Linked DNA regions of Homo sapiens. The protein of the gene in region 2 purifies or fractionates together with the protein of the main gene of each other region. This does not show direct contact. Each region holds a gene or a part of one and is shown on either strand. Other genes may lie near its edges.

The links.
Region 1: the proteins of RHOBTB3 (region 2) and PCYOX1 purify together in Homo sapiens (co-immunoprecipitation; 3 studies listed by BioGRID and IntAct, with this or other methods). This does not show direct contact.

Annotation. Positions count from the first base shown.
Region 1 is NC_000002.12:70,253,028-70,268,340, reverse strand, and holds the start of PCYOX1 (prenylcysteine oxidase 1 precursor), read right to left. Parts: upstream 10,205-15,313; 5' UTR 10,177-10,204; coding exon 10,065-10,176; intron 8,982-10,064; coding exon 8,775-8,981; intron 7,130-8,774; coding exon 6,955-7,129; intron 1-6,954. UniProt on the Homo sapiens protein: Prenylcysteine oxidase that cleaves the thioether bond of prenyl-L-cysteines, such as farnesylcysteine and geranylgeranylcysteine. Only active against free prenylcysteines and not prenylcysteine residues within prenylated proteins or peptides.
Region 2 is NC_000005.10:95,750,227-95,765,539, forward strand, and holds part of RHOBTB3 (rho-related BTB domain-containing protein 3), read left to right. Parts: intron 1-2,012; coding exon 2,013-2,124; intron 2,125-5,169; coding exon 5,170-5,535; intron 5,536-13,281; coding exon 13,282-13,394; intron 13,395-15,313. UniProt on the Homo sapiens protein: Rab9-regulated ATPase required for endosome to Golgi transport. Involved in transport vesicle docking at the Golgi complex, possibly by participating in release M6PRBP1/TIP47 from vesicles to permit their efficient docking and fusion at the Golgi.

The DNA.
Region 1 (15,313 bases), on a different chromosome or scaffold from region 2:
AAAACAGATTTTGGCTATAAATCTCTATTAATGAAATAGCCACTGAAGGTTTCTGAGTTAGTGGAGTGATGTGATGAGCCTTAGATTTTAAAGAACTACTTTGGCTGCTAACCTGAGAACAAATGGTAGCAATATAACAGTAATGGCAGATGATTTAGGAGGTGTCTTGGTTTTCCACTGCTGCTATAACAAATTACCACAAACTTAGTGGCTTAAAACAACACAAATTTACGGCCGGGTGCAGTGGCTCACACCTGTAATCCCAGCACTTTGGGAGGCTGAGGCGGGTGGATCACGAGGTCAGGAGTGCAAGACCTGCCTGGCCAAGATGGTGAAACCCCATCTCTACTAAAAATACAAAAATTAGCCGGGCATGGTGGTGGGCGCCTGTGATCCCAACTACTCGGGAGGCTGAGGCAGAGAACTGCTTGAACCCAGGAGGCGGAGGCTGCAGTGAGCCAAGATTGTGCCACTGCACTCCAGCCTGGGTGACAGAGCAAGACTCTGTCTCAAAACAAAAAACAGCTCTCCCTCTCCCCCTCCCCCTCCCCCTCTCCCTCTCCACGGTCTCCCTCTGATGCCGAGCCAAGGCTGGACTGTACTGCTGCCATCTCGACTCACTGCAACCTCCCTGCCTGATTCTCCTGCTTCAGCCTGCCAAGTGCCTGGGATTGCAGGCGCGCGCCGCCACGCCTGACTGGTTTTCGTATTTTTTGGTGGAGACGGGGTTTCACCGTGTTGGCCGGGCTGGTCTCCAGTTCCTGACCATGAGTGATCTGCCAGCCTCGGCCTCCCGAGGTGCCAGGATTGCAGACGGAGTGTCGCTCACTCAGTGCTCAATGTTGCCCAGGCTGGAGTGCAGTGGCGTGATCTCGGCTCGCTACAACCTCCACCTCCCAGCCGCCTGCCTTGACCTCCCAAAAGTGCTGAGATTGCAGCCTCTGCCCAGCCGCCACCCCGTCTAGGAAGTGAGGAGTGTCTTTGCCTGGCCGCCCATCGTCTGGGATGTGAGGAACTCCTCTGCCCGGCCGCCCAGTCTGGGAAGTGAGGAGCGCCTCTTCCCGGCCGTCATCCCGTCTAGGAAGTGAGGAGCGTCTCTGCCCGGCTGCCCATCGTCTGGGATGTGGGGAGCGCCTCTGCCCCGCCGCCCCGTCTGAGATGTGAAGAGCGCCTCTGCCCGGCCGCGACGCCGTCTGGGAACTGAGGAGTGTCTCTGCCCCGCCGCCATCCCGTCTGGGAGGTGAGGAGCCTCTCTGACCAGCCGCCCTCTCTGAGAAGTGAGGAGCCCCTCCGCCCAGCAGCCGCCCTGTCTGGGAAGTGAGGAGCCCCTCTGCCCAGCCGCCACCCCGTCTGGGAGGTGTACCCAATAGCTCATTGAGAACGGGCCATGATGACGATGGCAGTTTTGTCGAATAGAAGTGGGGGAAATGTGGGGAAAGGAAGGAGAGATCGGATTGTTACTGTGTCTGTGTAGAAAGAGGTGGACATAGGAGACTCCATTTTGTTCTGTAGTAAGAGAAATTCTTCTGCCTTGGAATGCTGTTTATCTATGACCTTACCCCCAACCCCATGCTCTCTGAAACATGTGCTGTGTCCACTAAGGGTTAAATGGATTAAGGGCGGTGCAAGATGTGCTTTGTTAAACAGATGCTTGAAGGCAGCATACTCGTTAAGAGTCATCACCACTCCCTAATCTCAAGTACCCAGGGACACAAACACTGCGGAAGGCGGCAGGGCCCTCTGCCTAGGAAAACCAGAGACCTTTGTTCACATGTTTATCCGCTGACCTTCCCTCCACTATTGTCCTATGACCCTGCCAAATCCCCCTCTCCGAAGAACACCCAAGAATGATTAATAAATACTAACAAAAAAAAAAAAAGTTATAATCTTACGGTTCTGTAAATTAGAAGACCAAAGTCAGTCTCTCCGGGCTAAAATCAAGGTGTGCACAAGGCTGGTTCCTTCTAGAAGCTCTGAGGGAAGACTGTCTTTTCCAGCCTCTACAGGCCACCTGCATTCCTTGGCTCGTGGACGCACACCCCTTCCTAGCATCACTCCAATCTCTTCCTTCCATCATCACATCTCCTACTACCTACCCTGATCCTCCTGCCTCTCTAAGGACCCTTGTGATTATATTGGGCCCACCTAGATAATCCAGAATAATCTACCCATCCTTAACCATATCTGCAACGTCTCTTTTACCTCAAAAGGTAACACATTCACAGGTTCCAGGAATTAAGACATGGACATCTTGTGGCAGACAGCAGGGGAGAGGATTATTCAGCCTATAATAGGAGGCTACTCTAGCAATCCAGACAAGAGACAGTGGTGGTGACTTGGAACAAAGTGGTAGCAGTAATCCTGGAGAGAAGTAGTGGAATACTGGATGTATTTTAAAGGCTGATGGGATTCAAGATAGAGTGGGTTTGGGAAATGAAAGAACAAAAATTGACTCAAAATATTTGGTAGGAGTAACTGGAAGGAAGAAAGGGTGTTTATAAAGCCTTTCCCTGTGAGTCTATCAGTCTCAGATCAAGAAGTGTTAAGGATCTTACAAGTCCCCAGAAATGCACTAACTTGAGAGAGAAGAATAAGCTTTAACCTAGTCTACAAGCCAAGATATCTCAACAGGAAGCCATCAGCAGACCAGAGATTTAAATTCCACAAACATCTGAGTAAACATCTACTACATTCTAGTTACTGTGCGTAGCATAGAACACAAGCACACAGTGTGCACCGTATAATAAGGGATGTTTGAAAAGAAAGATGAATGTTGATTGAAGCATTAAGGAAATGCTTTGCTGAAAAAGTGAGATAAGAGGTTGGACTTGGGAGTAAAGAATGGCATCCGGCTGAGCGCGGTGGCTCACGCCTGTAATCCCAACACTTTGGGAGGCCAAGGTGGGAGGATCACTTGAGCCCAGGAGTTCAAGATCAGCTTGGGCAACATGGCAACACCCTGTCTCTACAAAAATTTAAAAAATTAGCCAAGCATGATGGCACATGCCTATAGTCCCAGCTGAGGCTGGAAGATGACTTGAGACCAGGAGGTCAAAGCTGCAGTGAGCTGTGATTGCACCACCGTACTCCAGCCTGGGTGACGGAGCAAGACTTGGTCTCAAAAAAAAAAAAAAAAAAAAAATTAGTTAAGAATGGCATCCAACCAGAACAACTACATAAATGTATGTGCAGAAGTGGAAATTAAGCTAGCTAGTGCTGATGTCAGGGGCTGCAGGATTTCCACTCAAGTACCTCCAACAGCAGAGAATGAATGAATGCACTGTTTTCGAGTATTGCCTACCACAAGCTTGAGCCCTCTTTCGAGTGTCATGGTTTACTACTGTTACATAGGTCTTTCTCCACCTTGTGTATACTTTGATCTTGGCTCACCACAACCTCCGCTTCCTGGGTTCAAGCGATTCTACTGCCTCAGCCTCCCAAGTAGCTGGCATTAGCTGCGCCTCCACACCCAGCTAATTTTTGTATTTTTAGCAAGGCGGAGTTTCACCATGTTGGCCAGGCTGGTCTCGAACTCCTGACCTCAAGATCTATCTGCCTTGGCCTCCCAAAGTGCTGGGATTACAGGCGTGTGCCACCGCGCCCGGCCCGTAAATTATTTTTTAAAGTCAAAAACAGTATAACCTATGTATCCCCTCACTGGTTCTTTTTCCCAGTTCTGTAATACCTTGAATTCACTTCAAAAGTGATTTCTTAGGCCAGGTGCGGTGGCTCATGCCTGTAATCGCAGCACTTTAGGAGGCCAAGGCGGGCAGATCAATTAAGGCCAGGAGTTTGAGACCAGCCTAGCCAACATGGTAAAACCCCATCTCTACTAAAAATAAAAAAATTATCTGGGTATGGTGGCACATGCCTGTAATCCCAGCTACTCAGGAGGCTGAGGCAGGAGAATCGCTTGGACTCAGGAGGCAGAGGTTGCAGTGAGCCGAGATTGCACCACTGCACTCCAGCCTGGGTGACAGAGTGAAACTCATCTCAAAAAAAAAAAAGTAATTTCTTAATTTCTCAAAGGGCAATTCTCTACATCTCAAGCAAGCCACAGATAAAAAAAAAAACAAGGCTGGGAACAGGAGCTCACAACCGTAATCCCAACACTTTGGGAGGCCCAGGTGAGTGGAACACTCGAGCCCAGGAATTCAAGACCAGCCTGGGCAACATGGCCAAACCTCATCTCTACAAAAAAAATACAAAAAATTAGCCAGATCTGATGGCACGTGCCTGTAGTCCCAGCTACACAGAGGCTAAGGTAGGCAGATCCCCTGAGCCCAGGAGGTCCAGGCTGCAGTGAGCCATGATCACACCACTGCACTCCAGCCTGGGTGACAGAGTGAGACCTGTATCAAAAAAAAAAAAAAAAAAAAGAGGGCCGGGCACAGTGGCTCACGCCTATAATCCCAACACTTTGGGAAGCCGAGACAGGCAGATCACAAGGTCAGGAGTTTGAGACCAGCCTGGCTAACACGGTGAAACCACATCTCTACTAAAAATACAAAAAATTAACCAGGCATGGTGGCATGTGCCTGTAGTCCCAGCTACTCAGGAGGCTGAGGCAGGAGAATCACTTGAACCTGGGAGGCAGATGTTGCAGTAAGCCGAGATCCCGCCACTGCACTCCAGCCTGGGCGACAAAACGAGACTCTATCTCAAAAAAAAAAAAGAAAAGAAAAGAAAAACAATACACACAAGCAGGGCTGATGCCATCAGAACTTGATCTGCCTGCTGAGTATGCAGCACCATGCCACCCACCTTCTATAAAGTGACTGGCCGTCTCTACGCAAATTCTATATATTTCCTTGGTTGTGTATTGCCTGTCTCTCCACTAGAATATATATTCTTTGAGGACAAGGACATGTTGTAGGTCCTATACTCTCAACATAGAACAATGCCTAGCACCTAACAGGTATTCAATATTGGGTGAATGAATGAATGGCTACTTAAAAACATTATGCACTGTAGATGGACTTAAGGTACCCACGGGAAAGGCATTTAAGGAACTGACCTAAGAATGATGTTGAGAAAGAAAGAAACCCCAAACTACCATGAGTTATAGAAACCAGAGCATATCCTGCTTAGCTTTCTTTTTTTTTTTTTTAGACAGTCTGGCTCTGTCCCCCAGGCTAGAGTGTAATGGCACGATCGTGGCTCACTGCAACCTCTGCCTCCCAGGTTCAAGTGATTCTCCTGCCTCAGGCTCACAAGTAGCTGGGATTACAGGCATGCACCACCACGCCGGCTAAATTTTTATATTTTTTGTAGAGACAGGGTTTTACCATGTTGGTCAGGCTGGTCTCAAACTCCTGACCTCAGGTGATCCACCAGCCTCAGCCTCCCAAAATTCTGGGATTAGAGGCATAAGCCACTGTGCCCAGCCCTGCTTAACTCATATTTGTCCTGTTCAATACCTGGTCATATGACATGTTTTGTTTTGTTTTGTTTTTCCCCTCAAGATGGAATCTTGTTCTGTCACCCAGGCTGGAGTGTAATGATGCGATCCTGGCCTCCAGTACCTAAAACTGTAAAGCAGCATAAAAATTAGCATGTGCTAGCCGGGCACAGTGGCTCATGCCTGCAATCCCAACACTTTGGGAGGCTGAGGCAGGCGGATCACGAGGTCAGGAGATCAAGACCATCCTGGCTAACACAGTGAAACCCCGTCTCTACTAAAAATACAAAAAATTAGCCAGGCACAGTGGCAGGCACCTGTAATCCCAGCTATTCGGGAGTCTGAGGCAGGAGAATCGCTTGAACCAGGGAGGCAGAGGTTGCAGTGAGCCGAGATGGTGCCACTGCACTCCAGCCCGGGCGACAGAGCAAAACTCCATCTCAAAAAAAAAAAAAAAAAAAATTAGCACATGCCGGCCAAGCTCGGTAGCTCACACCTGTAATCCCAGCACTTTGGGAGGCCGAGGCAGGTGGATCACCTGAGGTCAGGAGTTCGAGACCAGCCTGGCCAAGAGGGTGAAACCCCATCTCTACTAAAAATACAAAAATTAGCTGGGCGTGGTGGCAGGCATCTGTAATCCCAGCTACTCGGGAGCCTGAGGCAGGAGTATCGCTTGAACCCAAGAGGCAGAGGTTGCAGTGAGCCAATATCGAACCATTGCACTCCAGCCTAGGCAACAAGCGAAACTCCATCTCAAAAACAAAAAAACAAAAAAACTAAAAAACTAGAACATGCCAACAGCTTTAAAAATACAGATTGTACCTTTCAAAATTAGACTGGCTATTTTATGTTAGTCTTCCTGATTACCAAAGTGATACATATTCACACGCATTAAAAAAACTGTTTAAATATAGAAAAGCATAAGGACGAAAAAGAGGCACCTGAATTCTCACTACCCAAAACAGTGCTAGAATGTAAATTCTTGGAATATGGAACTTTTACTCTACTTCAGGCTGCTGGTTCACTGAAAACATGTCACTATTAAAGGCCATTTAAGTTTTCTGATCCTTTCTACAAGCTCTTGTACACATTATCTCAATTCATATACACAACACCAGCACAGCATAGAGATTAAGAGTGAAGACTCAAAGGCCAGACTGCCTGGGTGGCAACTCCAGCTATACCACTTACTATGTGGGTGAACTTGCCTTTTAAAACCTCTCTACACCGCCACCTTCTGCATCTGTTTAAAGAAGCTAAAAACAGTACCTACCAGAGTAAGTTGTCATAAGAATTCAAGGCATCTAACAGTATCTGGCAACACTAAAGAAGCATTTGCAAAATACACTTCAGAAGCAAAAATAAACCAACCTTTCAATATCCAAGCAAATAGTCTGCATAGTTTCTACAAAACATTTTGCCTAACAATGTTATAAACAGGCCTTGCTGTGAGGTAGAAAATGCTTACAAGAAATCATAATTCCTAAAGTTCATCAAGTTTAATTTAACCTAAATTAAAAGATCTTAGGTTAAATGGAAGGAAAAAAAATTACCTCATGAACTTGTCTAACACGTCCTCTACCCACATGTGCATACGGAGGGATTGAAATCCATAGCGCCAAACTAATTTAATCACGTTAATTATGAACCAGTTGCTCTCCTCAAATACCAGAGTCTCTCCATTATATATCCCCAGTAGGCCACCAGAGGCCTGAACAGCAGAGAGACCTGCAAAAACATAAAGCACAGCTAAGTCAGTGGTGTCTATGCTGATCAAATGAAAGAACGTAATCTGAGTGAATTTGGGGCTTCCCTCAGTTCTCAGGAGACACATAAAGGAGCTCTATCTTTGGAACAGTGTGAAACACTATACTTTCACTACACTGTCCAAAAGCAGATTTGCTAGGCGATGGGTCAGATGATCATGTAAATATTAATATATCAAAAGTAGATATATTTTTACCTGGCTATTTTTAGACTAAAAGTCTAAAAAAACTGGATAGTCAAAGGAAAAAAGCCAGAGTACCAACTGAATTCAATTTAAAAACAAAGATGTCAGACATGCATCTTCGTGGCATAATTTGTTCTGGGTATACCTTCGCCCTCGTGGAGGAAACGGAAGCAGAGGCAGCATCTACAGAGGATGTGGAAGGCAGCTGAGGCACTTCCATTCCTGTGAGAATCCTATTTTGCAAAACTGGATATTTCAGATAACTGGAAGGAGGCCAAAGTTACAAAATACTCCCTGCCGAAAGGGCCTCCAGAGGCCTGTCAGACTTTCCCCATGACCTATCCAGCTCCTCTGCTGTCAGGGCAGCAGTTGCACATCCCAAGTTCTAGGCACGTGTCTGCATCCACAGCTGTGTGACGGAGTTTGTTTTGTTGGTGGTGGTTTGTTTTGATAGGGTCTCACTTTGTTGCCCAGGCTGGAGTGCAGTGGCATGCAAGGCTCACTGCAGCTTCTATCTCCCAGGCTCAAGGGATCCTCCTGCCTCTGCCTCCCAAGAAGCTGGGACTACAGGTTTGTGCCATCACACCAGGCTAACTTTTTTATTTTTAGTAAAGACAGGATCTCACTATGTTGCCCAGACTGGTTTCTAACTCCTGGGCTCAAGTGATCCTCTGCCTCGGCCTCCCAAAGTGCTGGGATTACAGGCATGAGCCACTGACCCTGGCCATGGCCATATGTGAGTGACTTTGAGCCAGACAATTCAAGTCTCTGGGTCTCATTTACTCAGCTGCAAAATGATCACAATGAGATGACTATCTCCAAACCTTCTCTGATTCTTTAACACAAACCCAGAATTTTAAGAACAGACAACAGAGGCCGGGCACGGTGGCTCACCCCTGTAATCCCAGCACTTTGGAAGGCCAAGGCAGGCGGATCACCTGAGGTCAGGAGTTCAAGACCAGCTGGCCAACATGGTGAAACCCCGTCACTACTGAAAATACAAAAATTAGCTGGGCGTGGTGGCAGGCACCTGTAATCCCAGCTACTCAGGAGGCTAAGGCAGGAGAATCGCTTGAACCCGGGAGGCAGAGGTTGCAGTGAGCCAAGATCGCACCATTGCACTCCAGCCTGAGCGACAAGAGCGAAACTCCTCAAAAGAAAAAAAAAGACAATGGCAGCCATTCCCACCCCCACCCCATGGCTGTAATTCCAGATAACTGAAGATACAGACAACTAGTGTCCCATTACAGCAGAACTGCTCCTAACTCAGGCAGTACCAACTAACAAGAAAGTGAGGAAAACAGTTTTACCAACGTCTCTGTAAGGCAATTAACAAGGCAGAAATTTCAGTTCTCCATCTGATAAAAATATCCGGGGATGTCACACAGTAATCTGGTGAGCTCCAAGACCAAAATTACATACCCAGGTCTTTGACAAAACGTTTCATGTGCAGATTTAAAGGATGGATGACAGAACCTCCTGCCTCGTATTCTTGCCCCTGCACCATCATGGTAGCCAGGCGGCCCCCGACCTCTTCTCTTTCAAACAGGTCTATCTTCACATCTTTCCCAAATTTCTGCCGCAGGTAATAGGCTGCTGAAGTGCCACCAATTCCGGCTCCAATAATCGCTATGAGGGAAAAAAACAGAAGATTATATTTTCCCCTTTTACCAGCTCTGTGAGTTGTTTTGTTTTTGAAAGACCATCAATAGCAGAGGTTGTTACTCAAAGCTATTACCAACAATTTGGTGGGGGAAGAGTGACACCTGCAGCGAAGGTCTAACTCCCTGAATCTGGACAGACACTGTTCCCAGACAAAAGCAGTAGATTAATTAACATATTGACATTAACTCGATTTTTTTTCCAGATGCCCAAAGATTCTCACAGGTCTTTATGGAGGAACCAAGGGGCCTGCACACCCTTCCAGATGCCCAACTCACGGGCACATTAGAGGTGGACCTTTCCAGCACGCATTTTTAATAAAGTGACGGCCATTTATGCCTAGCTTTGTTGTGTCTAGATTCAATGTAGATAGGTTAATGATACCGAAGAACACAACTTTAAAGGGGGGCGGGAGGGAGACAGGAAGCAAAGAGCCAAGGCTCCTGACACTGGAGCTCTTGACAGTGGAAAGAGAACAGATTCTTTCTGCAGCTGTGTTAGTCCTAGGCGGAGAAACTGTGCAAGCCAAGGGCCTCTGAGAGCAGGCCGACCTCAGCAAAGCGGAGCTGGGGGAAGGCGGTTCAGCCTCCCAAGGGAAGCAGGCAGGGTCAACTTGTTTGCACTCCTCCCTGTGCTGTGCCTGCGTGAGCCTGTTAATCTGGCCGGGCGCCCCAGGTCAAGCCAGAACACTGGAGTCTTCACGGTCAGTGTTCAACGGGAAGATAGAGAAACCTAGGCCTCCCCGGAGCCCCACACCTAAGAGACAGGGGCTACAGGTACGCTAGGCGCCTGCCTGCCCGCCCGCCCCTGTCCCCGTCCACGCCCATTCCTCAAGTGGGCACCTCTCCACGCCTGGGAATGCACAGTCCTATTCCGACCAGAGCTGAAAGCCGCCCTGAAGTGTGAATGGGGGAAAGCGCGACCTGCGCAGCTGGCTCGGCCTGCACCGCTGGACTGCGTCGCGGCTGTGGGATCTGGGCGCACTGCGCAGCGGCCGCCCGGCGCGGGGCGCGCTCCAGCACCTTCCCGCGCCGCCCCCTTCTCGCCTACCGATTTTATCTGGCGGAGCACGCAGCTCGGCGCCCTCGGGGCATCCGCAGCTGCACAGCAACAGCCACAACCCCAGCAGCGAGGAGACGAGCTCCGCGACGACGCGCCCCATGGCCTCCACAAGCTCTGCAGCTGGCCTCAAGAGCCCCGCAGTCCTCCCACCGCTGCGCGGCTGCGCGCTCCGCCCAGCCCCGCCCCCAGGCCGCCCAGCCCCTGCGAGCCCCGCCCAGGTCCTGCGAGCCCCGCCCCGACCTCGCCCCGCCGGTCCTCTCAACCCTGCAGGAGCTCCCCACTCTGGGCCACTCAGTGCCCTAAGCACATCCTGCCGCCTCGAAGCCCACCCTCCTTCAGAAGACATCGAAGGCAGAAGCTGGCCGGGCGCGGTGGCTCAAGCCTGTAATCCCAGCACTTTGGGAGGCCGAGGTGGGTGGATCATGAGGTCAGGAGATCGAGACCATCCTGGCTAACACGGTGAAACCCCGTCTCTACTAAAAATACAAAAATTTAGCTCGGCATAGTGGCGGGCGCCTGTAGTCCCAGCTACTCGGGAGGCTGAGGCAGGAGAATGGCGTGAACCCGGGAGGCGGAGCTTGCAGTGAGCCGAGATTGCGCCACTGCACTCCAGCCTGGGAGACAGAGCCAGACTCCGTCTCAAAAAAAAAAAAAAAAAAAAAAAGGCAGAAGCTGAGGCTCGCCTCAGCTCTCCTCCTCCTTCCCTATCTATTTGGGTGAAGCACCTTAGTTCTTCACTAGTACCCTCTTCTGTTCCCTCCGTCGCTCCTCTCAAAGAATGCGCACAGCTAATCGCTGCCAGAAACAGACCAAAGGGACAACAGTACTTACTGAGTGATCACCCTGTTGCGAGAACTGTAAGGTTCTCCGTGAATGGGTAAATGGTGCTAACTGTAAAGAAAAATGAGGGAGACTGAGGATGGGGTGGCCCAAGGTGAAGGGGGTGTAATAGTAGTAACAGACATGAATAAAAGTAGTGTACCTGTAAGGACACCAGAATGTGCCACCCCAAAATACGCCTCTTTAGCCTAAGGATTATTTCAAGCCGAAGACAATTGAGAAGATGTAGATACGATGTAGATACGTGGGTGGAAAGTTCTCCGCCTTCCCCATTTGCCTAAAAGCAGGACATAAATTTTATTTTTTTAACAATTTTTAAATATATTGCATTTTATTACATAAAAGTAAAATTAGTAAAATAATATAATTTGATATACTTTATAATTTATAATTTCTCTCAGTATAATGTAGAAAAGTATTACTCTGAACACTTACTTTTTTTTTTTTTTTTTGAGACGGAGTCTCGCTCTGTTGCCCAGTCTGGAGTGCAGTGGTGCGATCTCAGCTCACTGCAAACTCTACGTCCCGGGTTCAAGCAATTCTTCTGCCTCAGCCTGTAGCTGGGACTACAGGCACCCGCCACCGTGCCTGGCTAATTTTGTGTATTTTTAGTAGAGACGAGGTTTCAGTGTGTCAGCCAGGATGGTCTCGATCTCCTGACCTCATGATCCACCCGCCTCGGCCTCACAAAGTGCTGGGATTACAGGTGTGAGCCACCGCGCCTGGCCATGAACACCTACCTTAAACATTACTTAATTTAGGCTAACTACAATGAGCCTCGCTACTTATATTTTTATCATGCATCTTACATTTTAATGTCCTTACTCTTTTATAGAAAAGGTCATAAAGAATGCCCAACTAATAAAGAATCTCTAATATCTCTGATACAGCAACAACTGATCACATACTTTCACATGTGAATACAATAGAAATAAAGTAACAGCATAAAGTAATTTGAAAGCTGTATTATATTATTATTCACTTTTCAAAAAATTGTTTTCAAGGAAACAAATATACTTTCAATGTAATTACAAAGCTTCAAAAAAACTCCTTTTAAAGTTATATACAAATAATTTAACAACTTTAATTGTGAATTCATTTTTATACTCAACACTCCTATTTAGTGTAATGTCTGAAGTAAAGCAGGACATAAATTTTAAAAGGCAAAGGTATCCCTCTTCCCACACTGCCTGGAAGGACAAAGGTTAATCACTAAAGACAATTTTACGCCTGTTAAATAAAATTCATAGGAAGCCATTGGTTTGGACTGAGCTCCTGCACTAGACTAGGCCCAACAGACTAAACCAAAATGGAGTCACTCAAGTCACTCATGTTCCACATCACAAGGTCAAAACTAAGTTGTCGATCTGACTTTCTAAGAAATCAGGAGAAAGAAAAATAATAGCCAAATTCCCGACAGACCAGTTTGAAGTGACATGATAAGGAAATACCCTCTGCTTTAAACTTTTCAAGGAAAGTAACCTCGAAACAACCAATGCACTTTTCTGTTTCTGCTTTCTTCAGCCCTTTCTGAAAGCCAACCTCCTCCACTCAACTCATAGGAACACTCATTCGATTTTATAAAATGAGGTGTTGCACAATTCTACAATCGCAACTAAAAGCCAATTATGCTCTTTAAACTAAATTAGTTGTAATTTTGTCTTTTGACAAACCTTTATCAGCCAGGAATCTACATGACAAACTTCATTAATGAGCCTTTTTCTATCGCGTATTTGCCTTCCCATAATTTGCCACCCCTAGAGACTCAAAATCATTTTCCTTCTCTTAACACTTCTCTTTTTTTTTCTTTCTTTCTTTTTTTTTTTTTTTTTGAGACGAAGTTTCGCTCTTGTTGCCCAGGCTGGAGTGCAATGGCGCAGTCTCACGGCAACGTCCGCCTCTCGGGTTCAAGCAATTCTCCTGCCTCAGCCTCCTGAGTAGCTGGGATTATAGGGAAGCGCCACCACACCCAGCTAATTTTGTATTTTTAGTAGAGATGGGGTTTCTCCGTGTTGGTTAGGCTGGTCTCGAACTCCCGACCTCAGGTGATCCGCCCACCTCGGCCTCCCAAAGTGCTGGAATTACAGGCGTGAGTCACTGTGCCCGGTTCTCTTAACACTTCTCTAAACATATACTGTTCTTTTTTGAAGATGCTGTATAATCCTGAATTCAAAGCTACCTCTTGGAGATTTGCTCATTTCCCTGGTCTCTCTTTTGAATACGTGACGTACATGTTTTTAAATTTCTGTTTTTCTTTTTTTCTTTCTTTCTTTTATTTATTTTGAGATGGCTTCGCTCTGTCACCCAGGCTGAAGTGCAATGGCACTATCACGGCTCACTGCAACCTCTCGCTCCTGGGCTCAAGCGATCCACCCACCTCAGCCACCAGAGTAGAGTACCTGGGACCACAGGCATCCACTACCATGCCCAGCTAATTTTTACATTTTTTGTAGAGATGGTTTTTTGCCATATTGCCCAGGCTGGTCTGGAACTCCTGGGCTCCCAAAGTGTTGGGATTACAGGCATGAGCCACCATGCCTGGTCCTGTTTGTTTTCTTCTTGTTAATCTGTCTTTTGTTACAGGGGTCTATCACAACCAAAACCTCGGAAGGGTAGAGGAAAACTCTTTTTTTCTCCCCAACATACCATACAATAGAACATTATGCATGCATTAAAAGGAAGCCAGGCACGGTGGCTCACGCCTGTAATCCCAGCACTCTGGGAGACCAAGGCAGGCAGAATATCTGAGGTCAGGAGTTCAAGACCAGCCTGGCCAACGTGGCAAAACTCTGCCTCTACTAAGAATACAAAAATTAGCTGGGCGTGGTGATGCATGCCTGTAATCCCACCTACTTGGGAGGTTGAGGCAGGAGAATCACTTGAACTTGGGAGGCCAAGGTTGCAGTGAGCTGAGATTGCACCACTGCACTCCAACCTGACAGGCTGATCTCAAAAAAAAAAAAAATTACAAAAAAAGAATGTTGGAGCTTGGCGCAGTGGCTCACACCTGTAATCCCAGCACTTTGGGAGGCTGAAGCAGGCAGATCACCTGAGGTCAGGAATTTGAGACCAGGCTGGTCAACATGGTGAAACCCTGTCTCTACTACTAAAAATATAAAAATCAGCCAGGCGTGGTAGCGCACACCTGTAATCCCAGCTACTCAGGAACGCTGAGACAGGACAATTGCTTGAACCCAGGAGGCAGAGGCTGCAGTGAGCCAAGATTACGCCACTGCACTCCAACCTGGGCGACAGAGTGAGACTCCGTCTCAAAAAAAAAAAAAATGGGTCTATAACTAATGTCCTAGTATTATCAGTTGAGAAAAGCTTGTGGTTGCATGATGGGTATAAAATGATCTCATGCCTCTTTTCCTTTCTCTGCCATCGTGGTGTGTTCTTGACTCCACCCTCACCATGTCTTCTCACAAGACTTTCAGGATTAAGTGATTCCTGCCCAAGAAACAAAAGCAAAATCGTCCCATTCCCCAGTGGATTCGGATGAAAACTGGAAATAAAATCAGGTACAACTCCAAAAGGAGACATTGGAGAAGAACCAAGCTGGGTCTATAAGGAATTGTACATGAGATGGCACACATATTTATGCTGTCTGAAGGTCACGATCACGTTACCATATCAAGCTGAAAATGTCACCCCTATCTGGAGAGTTCGACGTGTTTTCCTCTCCGAATCTGTTATGAACGCATTGGTTGGCTGGGTTCAGTAATAAATATGTGAGGCCTTTCATTTAAAAAAAAAAAGTCTCATTTCTGTAATTACAATACTTCACCCAAACAAACAAACAAAAATAACTAGTACATGAACATGAAGAACAATATAGATGAGAAGAAAATAGGTTGGATACAAAATAAAGTTAAACTTGGAGAAAGAGGCTGGGCTCAGTGGCTCACACCTGTAATCCCAGCACTTTGGGAGGCTAGGGCAGGCGGACGATTTGAGCCCAGGGTTCGAGACCAGCCTGAGCAAAATGGCGAAACCCCGTTTCTACGAAAAAATACAAAAAAATTAGCCTGGCATGGTGGTGTGCACCTGTAGTCCCAGCTACTCAGGAGGCTGAGGCAGGAGGATCACCTGAGCCTGGGAGGTAGAGGCTGAGGTGAGCAGTGATTGTGGTACTGCATTCCAGTCTGGGCACAGAGTGAGACTCTGCCCCCCAACCTCCAAAAAAAAAAAAAAAAAAAAAAAAGGTACATGTACCAGGATACAACTGCAACATTATTTGTAATACAATAGGTTTTTGAAAAGTAGTAACCTGAATATCCATCAATGCCAGTTATGGTAATTTATTCAATTTACCATTCAATACATTGGGGAACTTTCATTTTATGGACGATTTTGCAACTATTAAAAAACTATTAGGCCAGGACTGGGCGCAGTGG
Region 2 (15,313 bases):
CCCTTAGACCTAGGCCAGAGAGAAAGCCGCCTGCCTTCCAGCTTTAGAGAGCTCCATCTGTCCGTCCTCCAGTTGCACCCCTCCCCACAGGGCACAAGTCAGTGGAGCCAAGGGTTGTGCCCACCTGGAGCTGGTGGACTTCATTCCTTTCTAGACCTGCGCTGTCCAGTATGGCAACCACTAGCTACATGTGGCTATTTATATTTAAATGAATTGAAATAAAACCAAGTAAAATTCAGTTCTTCAAGCATATGAACCATATTTTAGGTGCTCTATGGCTACATGTGGCTAGTGGCTACTGTATTATATAATGCATATATTACAGAACATTTCCATCAACACAGAAAGGTCTATGGAATAGTGCTAGGACTATGCTCCCAAATCCAGTACCCCAGAATTCTCCGGCCACTGGTCCTGGGTCTGTTTCGGCCTGTGCAGGCCATTTTCCTGGGACAGTCCTCCTGATGGTGGACCACATTGCTGGTATATGCACCCCTAGGCCTGCGGGGTGGCCAAAGGGTGAGTCTTTATGGGGAATGGGGGAGGGGACAGTGGACAGAGCTTTGATGTCCACTTGTGTGCACAGAGCTCTTTAAAGCTCTGTGTTAGAGCAGGAGGTGAGAAGAGAATGGGTGGTCTTAGGGCTCAGGAATTAGGGATCAGCTCTCCCTTTGCTGTATGAACCTCTGAAGAATCTGAGAATTTAAATATAAATCTTGCCTGCCAGGCTTTTATGATGATGTATTTGTCAAAACAGAAGTATAGAATATCTTTTATATAACAGTTTGTTTTCTTGATTTACAGCGTTTAAATATTTAGGTGTGTGGTGGGTGGGCCTCCATTTGGACTTTTGCCCCAGGCCTTGCAAGCTAGGGCACAGGCCTGAAGCTACGTAAATGCACCTGAGAGAGATTTTTAGTTTGTAAAGGACAGATTTTAAAGAAATTTGTTCAAGAGAAGAAAGCGAAGTTTCCTGGCTCATGGGAACATCTGTAGACATAGAGGCAGCTCTGTTCCTGCTTTAATTTCACTAATATTAACTGTGGTGGTTGCCCACTGAGAAAATTATTACCAGCCACACAATTGTAGTGCTTGGCTTTCTCGAGTATTCAAGAGAGTAGCTGCGTGGGATGGCATGCACTTATAATCCCAGTGACTTGGAAGGCTGAGGCGGGAGGATCCCTTGAGTCCAGGAGTTTGAGTCTAGCTTGAGCAACATAGTGATACTCCATTTCTAAAATTAAAAAAAAAAAAAAGAATATATATATATATTTGTTAAATTTGAAAAAGAGAACCAACAATTCCTTCCTTGAAAAAAAAACTTTTATTTTAGGTTCAGGGGTACATATTTGTTATACGGGTAAATTGCATGTCACAGGGGTTTAGTGTTCAGATTATTTCACTAACCAGGTAATAAACATAGTACATGGTAGATAGTTTTCTGATCCTCACCCTCCTCCCTCCCACCACCCTCTCAAGTAGGCTCTGGTGTCTGCCGGTCACTTCTTTGTGTCCATATGTACTCAATGTTTAGCTCCCACTTATAAGTGAGAACATGTGGTATTTGGTTTCTTGTTCCTGTTAGTTCGTTTAGGATAATGGCCTCTAGCTCCATCCATTTTGCCGCAAAGGACATAGTTTCATTCTTTTTATGTCTGCATAGTATTCCATCGTGTATATGCGCCACGTTTTCTTTATCCAGTCTATCGGTGATGGACATTTAAGTTGACTCTATGTCATTGCTGTTGTGAATAGTGCATGTTTCTTTGTGGCAGAATGATTAATAACAATTCCTTCTTGAGTGGATAGTTTATTTATGTTCAGAGAAGGCACAATCTGCTCCACTCGATTCATTTTTTAAATAAAAACATTGTTTATATGTGTTTGCTAATGCATACGTATAAATGGTACTGACGTTTAAAATGTTTGACAATTGTGACTTCAGATGCAAATTTTCATGTTGGATATATAGTTTTGTTGGATCTTCAATTAAAATTTGATTCCTGTTTTAGTTGGAGTATTTTATGATTCAAGCCTTAAATCAGAAGACAAGTGAAAAAATGAAGAAAAGAAAAATGAGCAACTCCTTTCATGGAATTAGACCACCTCAACTTGAACAACCAGGTGCATTTCTTAGCCAATGTCTAGACATTCATTAAACATTCATTACAGATCCTTTCTCACAGGTCTTAGAGCAATTATTCTCAAACTTGAGCATGCTCAGAGCTTACCTGACATTCTGATTCAGTCAACCTGGGATAAGGCCTAGAATCTGTGTTAATCAGCCTCCCAAGTGATGCAAAAGCAGATTGGTACTTGAATCACATTTTGAGAAATACTGCTTTAAAAATTGAGCCTATAGATCCTATGTGTCCTAGGTGGGGAGCTGTTCTAGATTAAAGTCTAATGCTAAGTTACTACTAAATGCAATGCATGAACCTTGATTGGATACTGGTTCAATAAAAACATCTAAAAGATGTTCTTGGGACATGGGTTAAATTTTAATACGGACTGGAAATTAGATTATATCATGTAATTACTGTTAATTTTCTTATGCATCATAATGGTATTGTGATGAATAGGAGAATGTTCCTGTTCCCAGGAGATGAAGGTGAACGTAGAGTCCCGGGCGCGGTGGCTCACACCTGTAATCCCAGCACTTTGGGAGGCCGAGGTGGGAGGATCACAAGGTCAGGAGATCGAGACCATCCTGGCTAACACGGTGAAACCCCGTCTCCACTAAAAATACAAAAAAATTAGCCGGGTGAGGTGGCAGGCGCCTGTAGTCCCAGCTACTCGGGAGGCTGAGGCAGGAGAATGACGTGAACCCAGGAGGCGGAGCTTGCAGTGAGCAGAGATTGTGCCACTGCACTGCACTCTGGCCTGGGCGACAGAGCAAGACTCTGTCTCAAAAAAAAAAAAGAAAGTGTTTTAGAGCCAAAGGATCCTGATATCTGCAACTTTTAAATATTTCAGCTGTGTGTATGTGTGTGTGTTGATGTGTGGATGTGTGTGTGTGTGTGTGTGTGTGTGTGTGTGTCTTTCTGTCTCTCTAGAGATAAGGGGAAAATAAAAAATGTTAATAATTGCAAAATCCACGTGAGGGATATATGTGAAGGGTATATGTGTGTTCATTGCATCATTCTTTCAACTTTTTTGACTGTTTGAAAATATTTTTAATACAAAGTTCAGGGCAAATAAACTTTAAAATAAATAAATTATATCAACTGTTATCAGAATTTTCTGCATGATTTTGTAATAGAAATAGTAGGATAGCACTTTGTTGGATCAATGTCCTTTGGAATTTAAGGGACCTCATCTCTTTAAAAAAGTGCAGATATATAGACCACATATATATATAAATGATACACACTTGGCTTTTAATTTCCTGGTGTGCAAAGTGAAAGGGGAGACATGGTCTATTAGGTTGCAAACCCTTGGGCCTTAAATCCTTTCTGGATTAGAAAATGGGTGGGAAATGACCACATAAATAATGTAGATAGTTAGTTCTTAGTTCTTATTAATCAAGAAGACAAAATATACCAGATCCTCAGAGAAAGCAAAACATTACATGTCATTTAGCTTTAAAAGAAATATCTTGGCCCAGGTATGGTGGCTCATGCCTATAATTCCAGCACTTTGGGAGGCCAAGGTGGGCAGATCACCAGGGGTCAGGAGTTCGAGACCAGTCTGGCCAACATGGTGAAACCCCGTTTCTACTAAAAATACAAAAATTAGCCGGGCATGATGGCGACGCCTGTAGTCCCAGCTACTCGGAAGGCTGAGGCAGAGCTGCATGAACCAGGGTGGCAGAGGTTGCAGTGAGCCAAGATCATACCACTGCACTCCAGTGAGACTCTGTCTCAAAAAAAAAGAAAAGAAAAGAAAAGAAAAATCTCTTGTGTGGGTCTTCATGTGAGGGCACTAAGTGATATAGTGGACAGGGCTTTCAAAAGTGTCTCTTCAGGAAATGCAGCCTCAGCGTTCACAAGGCTGTTTCTTGTACTCTTCTGTTAAGAGAGCTGTGTGTATAACACTAAAGATATTCCAGAGGTTCAGAATAATACAGTCTGGGTACATATTTGGGGCTGATTTGTTCCAAGGACGGATCCTGGGCTCTGGGGCACATGGCATTTAGGGTTCTGTAAAGGGGCCACAGGCAGTAGAAGGGAGGAGGGTGGACTGGAATACAGTGCAGGGAGAGCCTGGCCTCCAAAGGACTTCGTTATTATCTGTTTTATAGGCTGGGGTTTGCTTTGGAATCAAGCATTTTTATTGCTAAAGAAGTTTGAATTCTACTGATTTAGACGGTTGCATACCCTTCAAACAACCCTTCACAAATGTCACTTTCCTCAGCTCCTCTGGATAAAAATGAGATGGCAGATGTTTTACAGTTAGGGTCTGTGGTGAGGGCCTGGAGTGTAGGTATTCTGAGTTGATTGAGGGCTCATCTCTCTTTGTTGGTGATCAAACTAGTAAACTGAAGGTTATATTCTCTTTTAGAAATTAGGGAGCTGAGTTAGCACTTTTGCTGAAGTGTTTTACTAGAAGGAAAAAATGCTAGTTTTGGAATCCAAATAAAGGGGTCACAATGTTTTCAAACGATCGAGTTCAAGACTCTGAGCCTTGACTCTGAGAAGTTGCACAATTTTAACAGCTCAGCCCTCTACCTCTACTTCTGGTCCCAGGAGGAAAAGGACTTCAGATGTGAGATTGGGTTCTTTGGAACTTATTCAGTACTTTGAATTTTTAAAATCAAAGGTAAAAGTAAAGAAGGATGACTGTGAAATACTAAAGTTCAGTATTTGGCGGCTTGTTTTATTTTGGGACACACAAGTAAGAAGAAATGTTATTTTATTGTTCCGTACGTCATTAGTGGGTTTTTCATTTGCTCTATAAAATGTAAATAAACATAGTATTTGTGTGTCTGTGTTATAACATTCTACAGTTCCTGAATAATTAGTTTATATATGTTTATAAATTAGGTTAAGCAGTAGTAGAAAATCGCTGTTTTTGTGCATCAAAAAATGGTTAAATATTGGCTGTTTCTTATGCTTTAACCTAATAATATTTTAAAATATTATACAATTATATTTAAAGTAAACATGAAATTGTTGGGTCTGTAAACCTGAAAGGAGTTTATTATTTTTATTTTCTTTTTCAAAACAGAAAAAATGCCTGTCTTAAAGGCTGAAGCGTCACATTATAACTCTGACTTAAATAACTTGCTGTTCTGCTGCCAGTGTGTGGACGTGGTATTTTACAACCCCAATTTAAAGAAAGTTGTAGAGGCCCACAAGATCGTTCTCTGCGCTGTAAGCCATGTTTTCATGCTGCTTTTCAATGTGAAGAGTCCCACTGACATTCAGGATTCCAGTATCATCCGAACTACCCAGGATCTTTTTGCTATAAACAGAGATACTGCATTTCCAGGTGCTAGCCATGAATCTTCAGGCAACCCACCATTACGAGTCATTGTTAAAGACGCCCTCTTCTGTTCTTGTTTATCAGACATCCTTCGCTTCATTTATTCAGGTATCTTGTCAAGTGGTTCTGGTTACTTACAATCTCATAAGCTTTGGAAATGAAATGTGCCTGTGACACTCAAGGGTACTGGTTAGTTTTACAGTGGTCTTTACCTACCATCTGAGATTAAGATTATACATGAAATATTATTTGCTTTATATATAAGAATTGGTCCAAGCTTTCTGTTTTCCTTACAAATGTACTTGCCTCATCTTTTCCCTATCAATTTCATTTTATTGTGGTAAAATACATAGAACATAAATTTTACCATCTTAACCATTTTTAAGAACACAGTTCAGTGGAATTAAACACATTCATAATGTTGTGTAACTATCACCACCATCCGTGTCCATAATTCTTTGCATCTTATAAAACTGAAACTCTATACCCATTAAACGATGATTCCCCATTCCGACCTCTTTCCAGCCCCTGACAGCCACCATTCTACTTTCTGTCTCTGTGATTTTAACTCTCCTAAGTGCCTCATGTAAGTGGAATCATACAGTATTTGTCATTTTGTGATTGATGTATTTTACTTAGCATAATGTCTTAAAGGTTCATCCAAGTTGTGGCATGTATCAGGATTTTCTTCCTTTTAAGGTTGATAATATTCTGTAGTACATATAGACCACATTTTGTTTACCCATTCATTCATCCATGGACGCTTGGGTTGCTTCCACTGTTTTAGCTATTGTGAGTAATGCTGCTGTGAACATAGTGTACAAATATCTCTTTTGAGACTCTGCTTTTATTTTATTTTTTGCATATATACACAGAAGTGGAATTGCTGGATCACATGGTAATTCTGTTTTTGATTTTTTACTGCCATACTGTTTTCCACACTAGCTATACCACTTTATGTGCCTACAAACTGTGCACAAGGGTTCCAATTTCTCCACATCCTTGCCAACACTTGCTGTTTATTTTTTTTAATAGTAGCCATCTTAATGGGTTTGATGTGGTATCTAATTCTGGTATTGATTTGCATTTCCCTAATGATTAGTGATATCAAGCATCTTTTCATATGTTTTTGTATTTGCCTTGGTTTTAAATCTACTTGTAAAAACCATAATCTGCCAAACAAGTATGTTAATATTTTATTTCTTTAAAAAACATCCAAAATATGAAATGTGAGAATTTATTGTCCAATTTAGTTTTAAAGACATAAAATATTCCAAGAGTAAATGAAATCAAGTGTCTACACCTTAAAACCTAGCTATTCACTCTTCGGTTTGACTCTTAGGTTTTGTAGGGCGTGAAAGAGAGAATTGCATTCAGCTTACGGACTGGAAATCAATATCCAGTGTTAGTTGAGGTCTAATTAACTTTGGCTATGACTATCATAGACGTTACTTTTTTTTTTCCTTACTGTGCCCTTTCTTTTTAAGATTTAGCTTATCAAGTATTTTTCTCTTTGCCCTTTTAAAAACTCAGTAGCAACTATATTTTAAAGATGGAAGTTCTATCTGAGTCATTTTAGCAAATGAATTGAAGGTCTTACATCTAAGTGTCCCATGTAAGAGTGGAAAAGAACAGATGTAAAATGAATTTTAATGTAAGCATCTAAATATAAGTTTTCTCAGAACTCCTGTCTTTAATTTTCTTTACCCACTTCAAATCATGTAGCGATAACCTGTTAGGCTAAGGTCACTCCTGCTCTGCAGTGTGTCTGGAGAAACATTTATAATTAATTTGTTTTTAGGGTTCAAGTAAAGCCTAATTGGGAACAGACAAAAAGTTTAAGGTTTGCAAGGCAAGTATCATTTCATACAGGTAGGGAAATTTGGGGCAGCCTTTATTTAAGTAATTGATGTTAAAAATAAGGTATTACTTTGTTCATGTGGTTTGTGGTCATGTAATTTTATAAGTTAAAACTTAAATTATGATTTTGAAAAGTACAGTTGCAGCACGCAGATTTATGTGGATAAAAAATACATATTGGAGTAGAATGTGGTGCTAGGTTAGTGAAATATTGGCTTGGAAAAAGCATAAATTAAGCACCTGTACAGCACACACCCAGCACATTGCCTTCAACGGGTTCTCTGTAAGTTTTAGTTGAATTAAAGAGTAGGCTCCAGTAGCCGGGCATCATCATATCAGTAAGCCAAACTATTTAAAGACTTCATTTAGTACTATAGATTTTGACGTTTAAACTTAGAATGTCACAGTTCAGAATTTAAGATTTTGAAAAACTAACATGTTTACATGTTAAGAGAAAAAAGATGTTTTTAATCATATGTTTAAGGAACTGTGAGGGATGTGACTTTTGTATGATAATTTTCTGTTGAAATTACATGAATTATTCAGTAGGCTTCCACAATTATTATTGACTACTTTCAAAGGCATATGAGCACTCTGACGTCTTATATCCTTTTTAACATAGTAGCAGTAAAATAGCTAGATGTATCTCCAGTGGCTGATCCTGCCTAGCTTTCTCCTAGGGGGAGTGCTTTATTTAATTGCAAAATTAATACAGGCAGATGGAAAAAAAGAGAAAGAAAAGAAAAAAGTTATCCTTCTACCCTAGACCCTTTCCCCGGAGTCATTTACCTGTTGTAATTTTTTTATGCACTCATTCTGATACTGTTTGAAAGAGATTAATATTCTGGGGACATTTGATTAATAAAAGTGTAATCCTAGGTATCTGCTGCTTTCCAGGGATCACAGGCCGTTTCCCATGGCTGGAGCGTAGAGTGAAAGGTGATGGCTGGTGGGTGATGAGGTGGGCAAGGCCTGTGGAAGCTGTTCCTGCTGCTCTTAGACTTGTGCTAGAGTTTTAAGCATGATCAGACTGGGCTTTAGAAAGCTCATCTCTGGTTGTGGTTGCAGGGTGGAACAGTGCGGCCAAGACAGGCATTCAATCAGGAGGTCCCATTACTCTGGCGATCAGCCTCAGGAAGGCCAACATTCAGACAGTGGGTGGCCCTGCCATTGGCCCTTCATCGTCTAGACCAGTGCTTTTCAAACCTTAAAGTGTGTGCAGATCATCTGAGGATCTTGTTCCTGTGGAGATTCTGATTCAGTTACCTGGAGTGGGGCATGAGATTCTGCATTTCCAGTAGTCTCCGAGGTGGTGCTGGATCTCTGGACTGCCAGAAGCAGCTGGAATACCTGCTTTTGGAAGAACTGGGAACCAGCCAAAACCAGCAAACTAGGGCCTAGAATTCAGTGCAGAGGCCCAGGAAGGCTACCAAGTTAACAGCTTAGGATTCAAAGTAAAAATGGGGTGAGCTGTAAGGCTGACTGATGCAGTGCTATTCAGAACTGGGGCTCTCAGTGCCCTGTGTGTCCCTGACGCGAGGAAAAATGGATGCCTAGTGGTTGGGTGGAAATTAAGTAAGCCTGGAATAGGGATCGGAGGGCAGGCAGGCATGATGGTGTGGAGAGCCTGCTGAGCTACAGGTCTTCAACCAGTTCAGAGTCCTGGCTTCTTAACCTGACACTGACCCGTCCCATTTCGGCTGTGATCTCTCCTTGTACGTCACGGCCAAAGCCGGAGGTGCTGTCTGGTCTGAGCAGGGGCACGGGCCATTGACCCGGGGCTGCAGAGATCCAGATGCTGGTTAAGGAAAAGGGAAAATAACTGGTTCTGCAGGTATCTATTTATTATTCTTTAATTATTTACAGATTACAACCTCTGGCTCAAGGAAAAGTTTCATTTACATTATGTTAAAAAGAGATATCAAAGCTGTATTTGCACAGAAAAGACAATTTTGAAAAATGCTGAAAATTAAGAGAAAAAAATTTACCCAGATTCCACTATCAACAGAAAATGTTTAAACATTTATTGCTTTGTTTGATCCTCTAGTCATTTGTTTGTGTATGAATAAGTGACACTGTTTTTGAAAAAATGTATTTTGTAATCAAATCAAACAAAAATTTTAAACCTACGTTTTTCTCAGAGACTTCAGTAAATGGGCCAGGCTTGTTTTGTTTTGTTTTTGTTTTAACATTTTTAAACCTGTGAATAGAATACAAGTGTTAAGGCACAGTTATGCAGTGGTTTTCCCACAGAAGTGCTGTGGTCTGCCCTTGGGTTATGCTAGAGAACCATTGAAGACAGGAGTTGTTTGTTTGTGTTCCCATCAGATGGGTTGGTAAAGCAGAGGTTGAACTCCATCATGTGCTCAGGAATATTTGCCTTGAGCAAACACGGGCTAGAGAGTTATAATAAGCCTATCTCCTGTCCTTGTTTTTTTTTTTTTTAAAGAACCAGATTACAAAGAATATCTTAATTCTTTTTAAATAACATGCTTTTTTTAACCTTTAGGAATTTGAAATTTGGTGTGTGTTATGTCACCATGAACATTTGGTTCGTTATTTAGGAGCGACCTGTTTAACAACAGTCCGGTTAACATTTTACACCTATCTATTCCTATTCAAATTTTTGATTCAGTAGACACAGTCAAGGTATATCTGTTTTGTATACGTTAGTTTTCTATTGAATAACAACAAACACTGCATAATGTATAAGTACTTAACTACTAATCCTAAGGAACGAGGAGTAATGTGATAAGTGAAGCCAGCCCTTTCCTGGTCTTCAGGGAGTAATTCTTACATGGCATACAATTGTAACATTCTTATAATACTTGATACAGTGTTATGGTTGCACATTCTTGAGTCATATGATCTCAGATGGTTAGGAAGTGAAGTATTTGTAAGAACCTCAAGAATTTAGCTTTGAGCTCTTCCTGCCACAGATGGCCCTTAGAGTTTCACATCACTTATTGAAATGCCATCTGAGTAGACAAATATGTGGAAGCAAGCTTTCATCTTCAGTTTACATTCTCCAGTTCTTAGAATCATTCCGTGGCATGTCCTTTTCTGTATTGCATAAAAACACAGCCTAGTATACATGAGTATACCATGCGCTCTAAAAGTCTAAGTGGATTCAGTGCTTTAAGAAGTTAACTAAAGAAAATCCCAGTCAGTGATGCAAGATGTCATCCTGCCCTTGTCTGCAGTTGATCAATCAGTAAAGTTATGCAAGATGAGTAAGTTCTGGAGACCTGCTGTATGACATTGTGCCTATTGTTAATGATATCGCATTATATACTTAAAGTTTTCTAAGAGGGTAAATCTGATGTTAAATGTTTTTACCACTGGAAAAATAAAAGGAAAGTCCCAGCCTTAGGATTACTGGTTTATTAGGACCTAAAAGTCTCAAAGATGACTTGATTAATGTTTCTAATTATGAAAACAGCCCAATCAGCAGTGTGCTCTTGAGAATTAGTCTTACTTTCATTTTCAGTGAGTGATTCTTCCTGTGTGTGTTCTCAGACAGTTCAGTGGCCTGTGGGGATTTACCTGCTACTGATTCCATCTATTTAGATTATTTGATGCTTGCTTGCTTTTAGATAATCTTCTGAATGGAGATATTTTATAGGTGTTTTTTAGTTAATATGCTTTTACTTAAATAACAATGTAACTTTTACATATATAAGTATGTAAAAGAACACAGAGACAGTACTTATGTTCTTCTTTAGATTGGATGAGTGCAGACATAAAAAATACTTACATGTTCCCTTTCCTGCATACCACTAACACTGGGTTTGGATAATGGCTGAAATTTCTTTCCTTTTTCCTCTTTTTTTTTTTTTTTTTTTTTGAGACAGGGTCTCACTCTGTCACTCAGGCTGGAGTGCAGTGGCATGATCATGGCTCACTGAAATCTCCGCCTCCTGGGTTCAAGCGATTCTCCTGCCTCAGCCTCCCAGGTAGCTGGGATTACAGGCAGACGCCACCATGCCCAGCTAATTTTTGTATTTTTAGTAGAGATAGGGTTTCCCCATGTTGGCCAGGCTGGTCTCGAACTCAGTGGTTGAAATTTCTAAAGGGAAAGCAGTGGCCGTCAGCAGCATACCATGCACATTAGGGTCACCAGGGAGAATTTTAAAACACTGATGCCAGGGGCTTCAGGCCCAGAAATTCTAATTCACTTGATCTGGAGATGAGACCTCCTCTCATGGTATTTTATAAAAGATCTCAGGTATTTATAATACACAGGTATGGTTGATAATCACTGGCATAGAGTAATTTTATTGATCTGGGATCCATTGGCTTCTAAGGGGTTCTTACACTCTCACATTGTTATACTGACTTTAATGTTTGTGTGCACATGAAATTTTCTGGTCATACAATCCCAAGAATTTATGAGATGGGAAAAGAGGATGTGGCCACACAGTTAAAAAGCATTCATGCAGAAAGAGAAAAACAGAAATCATAGAGCTCTTCTACACTACACAGCTTTGAGAATTTGAGGAGGAAGGGGAGCAATCAGTGAAAGCATAAAAAGAGCTAGCAAAGGCAGAAAGAAGCAGTGGTGTGCTGGAGCTGGCACCAGCTTGTGAGAGCCCAGTTGTGTTTATCATCCCCATTTCCTTGTTCTGTGATGTCATGTTGATAGCATCAAAAAATGGCAAATGCTACATATCATTTGACTCCCTCCCCCAGGAGACACTGTAAGTATTAGGAAGGCCAGGTGGGGAGAAGTTGAAAGGATATGCATTAGTGCTTAGTGCTGCAGGGCTCAGCTGTAAGAGCCTGAGAGCTTCTGGACTTGCAATCTGCCCCTTCCAATTGGATTTGGTTTTAGTTGGTACAGACTGGCTGCAATTGCCTGATCTCATTGGTTTAATAAGTGTTTATGTGCCTGCCTCATTCCCCAATATCCATGAAGGCATCTGGTGAGTGCTGAATACAGGAATGAAAACATCAGAAGAAATGAACTGAGAGCAGATAAAAAAGGGTCTTGAATTACCCAGAGAGGTGAAGTGACTCATCACACTAGTAGTTAATAGCTGAGGTAGAACTGGATCCTAGGTCTCCTAACTATACCGCCCACACTAGGCTTCTTGAATTATATTTTTATGAGATAGGACCTTCTATAAATCATAGGATGGATGCGTGTAATCTCTTGGAATGTCATGATCAGATTCGTGCTTTTGAAAACTCACCAGCTTTGAGTAATAGGATGGATTTGATGGGGAAAAGGCTGTTAGGAAGCAGGGAGGTTGGATAGGAAGTTGCTGCAGACCAAGTAAGAGAAGTCCTTGGGGAAAAGGTCAGCTTTTGCTGACCATAGAATAAGAATTTTGCAAGACATAGAGGAAAAGAGGCTGACAGAGTGGGAGAAGTGAAATGAGCCTAGGAAGAGAGTTTTGAAGTGGGCTAGGGAAAGGCAAAGGACAGTGGGGTGATTTTGCTCCGATGACATGAGCTACGTGGACGAGTAGCTCCCTTCCTCAGGCTGGTTTTGTAGAGTTGGCTCTCAAGCATCCCAGTCTGCCCCTGACAATGCTTGAGACCTTCTGAATGCATTCTGTTGCTGCTGCATGTTCCTCTACCTGATGATAGTCACTGCTGCCCATAACTGGTAAGATTTAATTCACCCTTGGGAAAGACCACATCTACCTTTTTACTCAGGGCAAGTAAATAATTTGGGTGCTGGACCACTTGTCATGGGAACTCATATTCTGACCATTGCTGTTATCACTAGCTGCCCACCTATTGCAGAGAGGTAGCAGCAGTCTGGGGAGGAAGACTTCAGATTTTGAGAAATAATTTAGGGGAAGTTAAACTGATCGTTTTGAAATGTGAGTACTGTTTAAATGTTTTAGTATAGTTATAAGGATGTATATCTGGTAAAGAAAAATTAAAGCACTAAAAAAAGGGAATGTTGTATTTAATAAGAGATTTACTTTTGTTACTTCCTCATTTAACAGAAAAATCCAGCATGTACTAATTTGTTTACAGGTGCTTTTCAGTGGGAAGAATTGGAAGAAGATATCAGGAAGAAGTTGAAAGATTCTGGGGATGTTTCAAATGTAATCGAGAAAGTTAAATGCATTTTAAAAACACCAGGAAAGGTAAGTTGATTTGTTGTAAGTTAGTTTACTTTGACCCTCTGAATTATAACTCACATACTATGATGAATATAAAATTGAGTCGTTAGAAGAGTCAAATACTGTATAAATGTAAATGTTTTCCTTAAGTATATTTTACCATTTAAATATTTAAAACATAAACATGGGTTATTTGTATCTTAGATTGTGTGTGTGTGTGTGTGTGTGTGTGTGAGACAGAGACCTGTGTTGCCCAGGTGGGAGTGCGTTGGCATGATCTTGGCTTACTGCAGCCTCCACCTCCTGGGCTCAAGTGATATCTCCCACCTCAGCCTCCCAAGGAGCTGGGACTATAGATATGCATCACCATACCTGGCTAATTTTTAAATTTTTTGTAGAGACGTGGTTTTTCCATGTTGCCCAGGCTAGTCTCAAACTCCTGGGCTCAAGCGATCTGCCCACCGTAGCCTCCCAAGGTGCTGGGATTACAGGCATGAGCCACCACACTCGGCCCTATCTTAGACTTTAATTTATGTAAGAATTAAAATACATGTGAGTCATGTCTTTAAAATGCTCGTTTGCGAATTCTGCCTTCTGAAACATTCCCCTGGAGCTCTGGGAATACACAATCTATATCATGAATAAAAGGCTGTTTAATTTGTCCAGGTACAGTTAAGGTTATTAGAGAGGGTGCCTTCTCACTCCTCACAATTTAAGTCTCAAATAGTTTTTGAGAGGAAGGCAGTTTTGAATGTCCCTTTTTCAAGTGTTCTGAGAAATCTATTCAACGAGGTGGACAGTTAAGGATGATCTCATCAATTATAGGTTCAAAATTATAAATTAGATTCAAGTTTATAAAAACAGACTTTGTATATTGCCATAGACTGGTGCACATTAAAACTCTAGTAACTTGGTATTGTGTAGTCTGTAAGGGCTTTAAAAAACATTTCAAAACTTTAAGACATTACACAATTTAGCCAGTGTATTTTTTTGTCTGATTTTGTGATAAACAAATTGGCTGCAGTAGATAAGTAAGGTAAGTTATATGCAATACTTAGCGGAGTAAAGGTATATATTAACTATAAGAAAAATGATGATTCCTTTAATTTTTTAATATAGATGACTTTTCTGTTTTCTAAAACCTGTTAACATTTTAAAGTTAATGTTTTACAAAAATGAAACTGTACTAGCTTTTAGTGAAGATTCTTGATTGTTCTTTAGTTGAGAAAATAGTCTTTTTTGTAAACAAAGTAACGTGGAATTAAGGGGTAAGATTTTTTTTTTTTTAGTAACACATTGAAGCAGGTATACAGAAGCTGTCCAGTTTTACAAGTATATGGCAGGATGGTAGCTCTTGCAGTCTAATTCAACTAAATAATCATTTGTAAAAATTTGCACATATGCCTATATTCTCGTTTTCAAAACAGTTCATCTAGTTGTCTTGATTAACTTGTTTACGGACCAGTGAAAATGTACATCACGTACATTTGTGTTCTCTCAAACTTCTGCTCTCCCATTTTTTTCAAATTCAAAACAGAATTGATGAGGGAATCTGTTTATAGATTCTCTCCCTCTCTCTCCAGTTCTCTCATACATTCATGTGTAATATACATCTATAAAATATTCATAATATGCAAATTCATAACCTTTATATGGCTGACAAGTACAGAAATCTTGCCTTTTCTTCTAACCCTAAACCTTTTCTTGAGTCTTGATTCGGAACACATTCCTTTGAATACTGAGAATAAAATGAATTCTTATTGGGGAAAGGGAAGGCTGGGTGATACGATTCCATGGTATTGCGCTGAATTCCCTCCTCTGCACGGGGAGAAAGAAGAGTTATTTCACACCTTCTTCCTGTGCTTTCCCAGGGTAAGGGGCTGTCTCATTTACTGAGTACCACACAGGGGTGTAACTCTGAATTGGGACTTGGGAAATGTAGA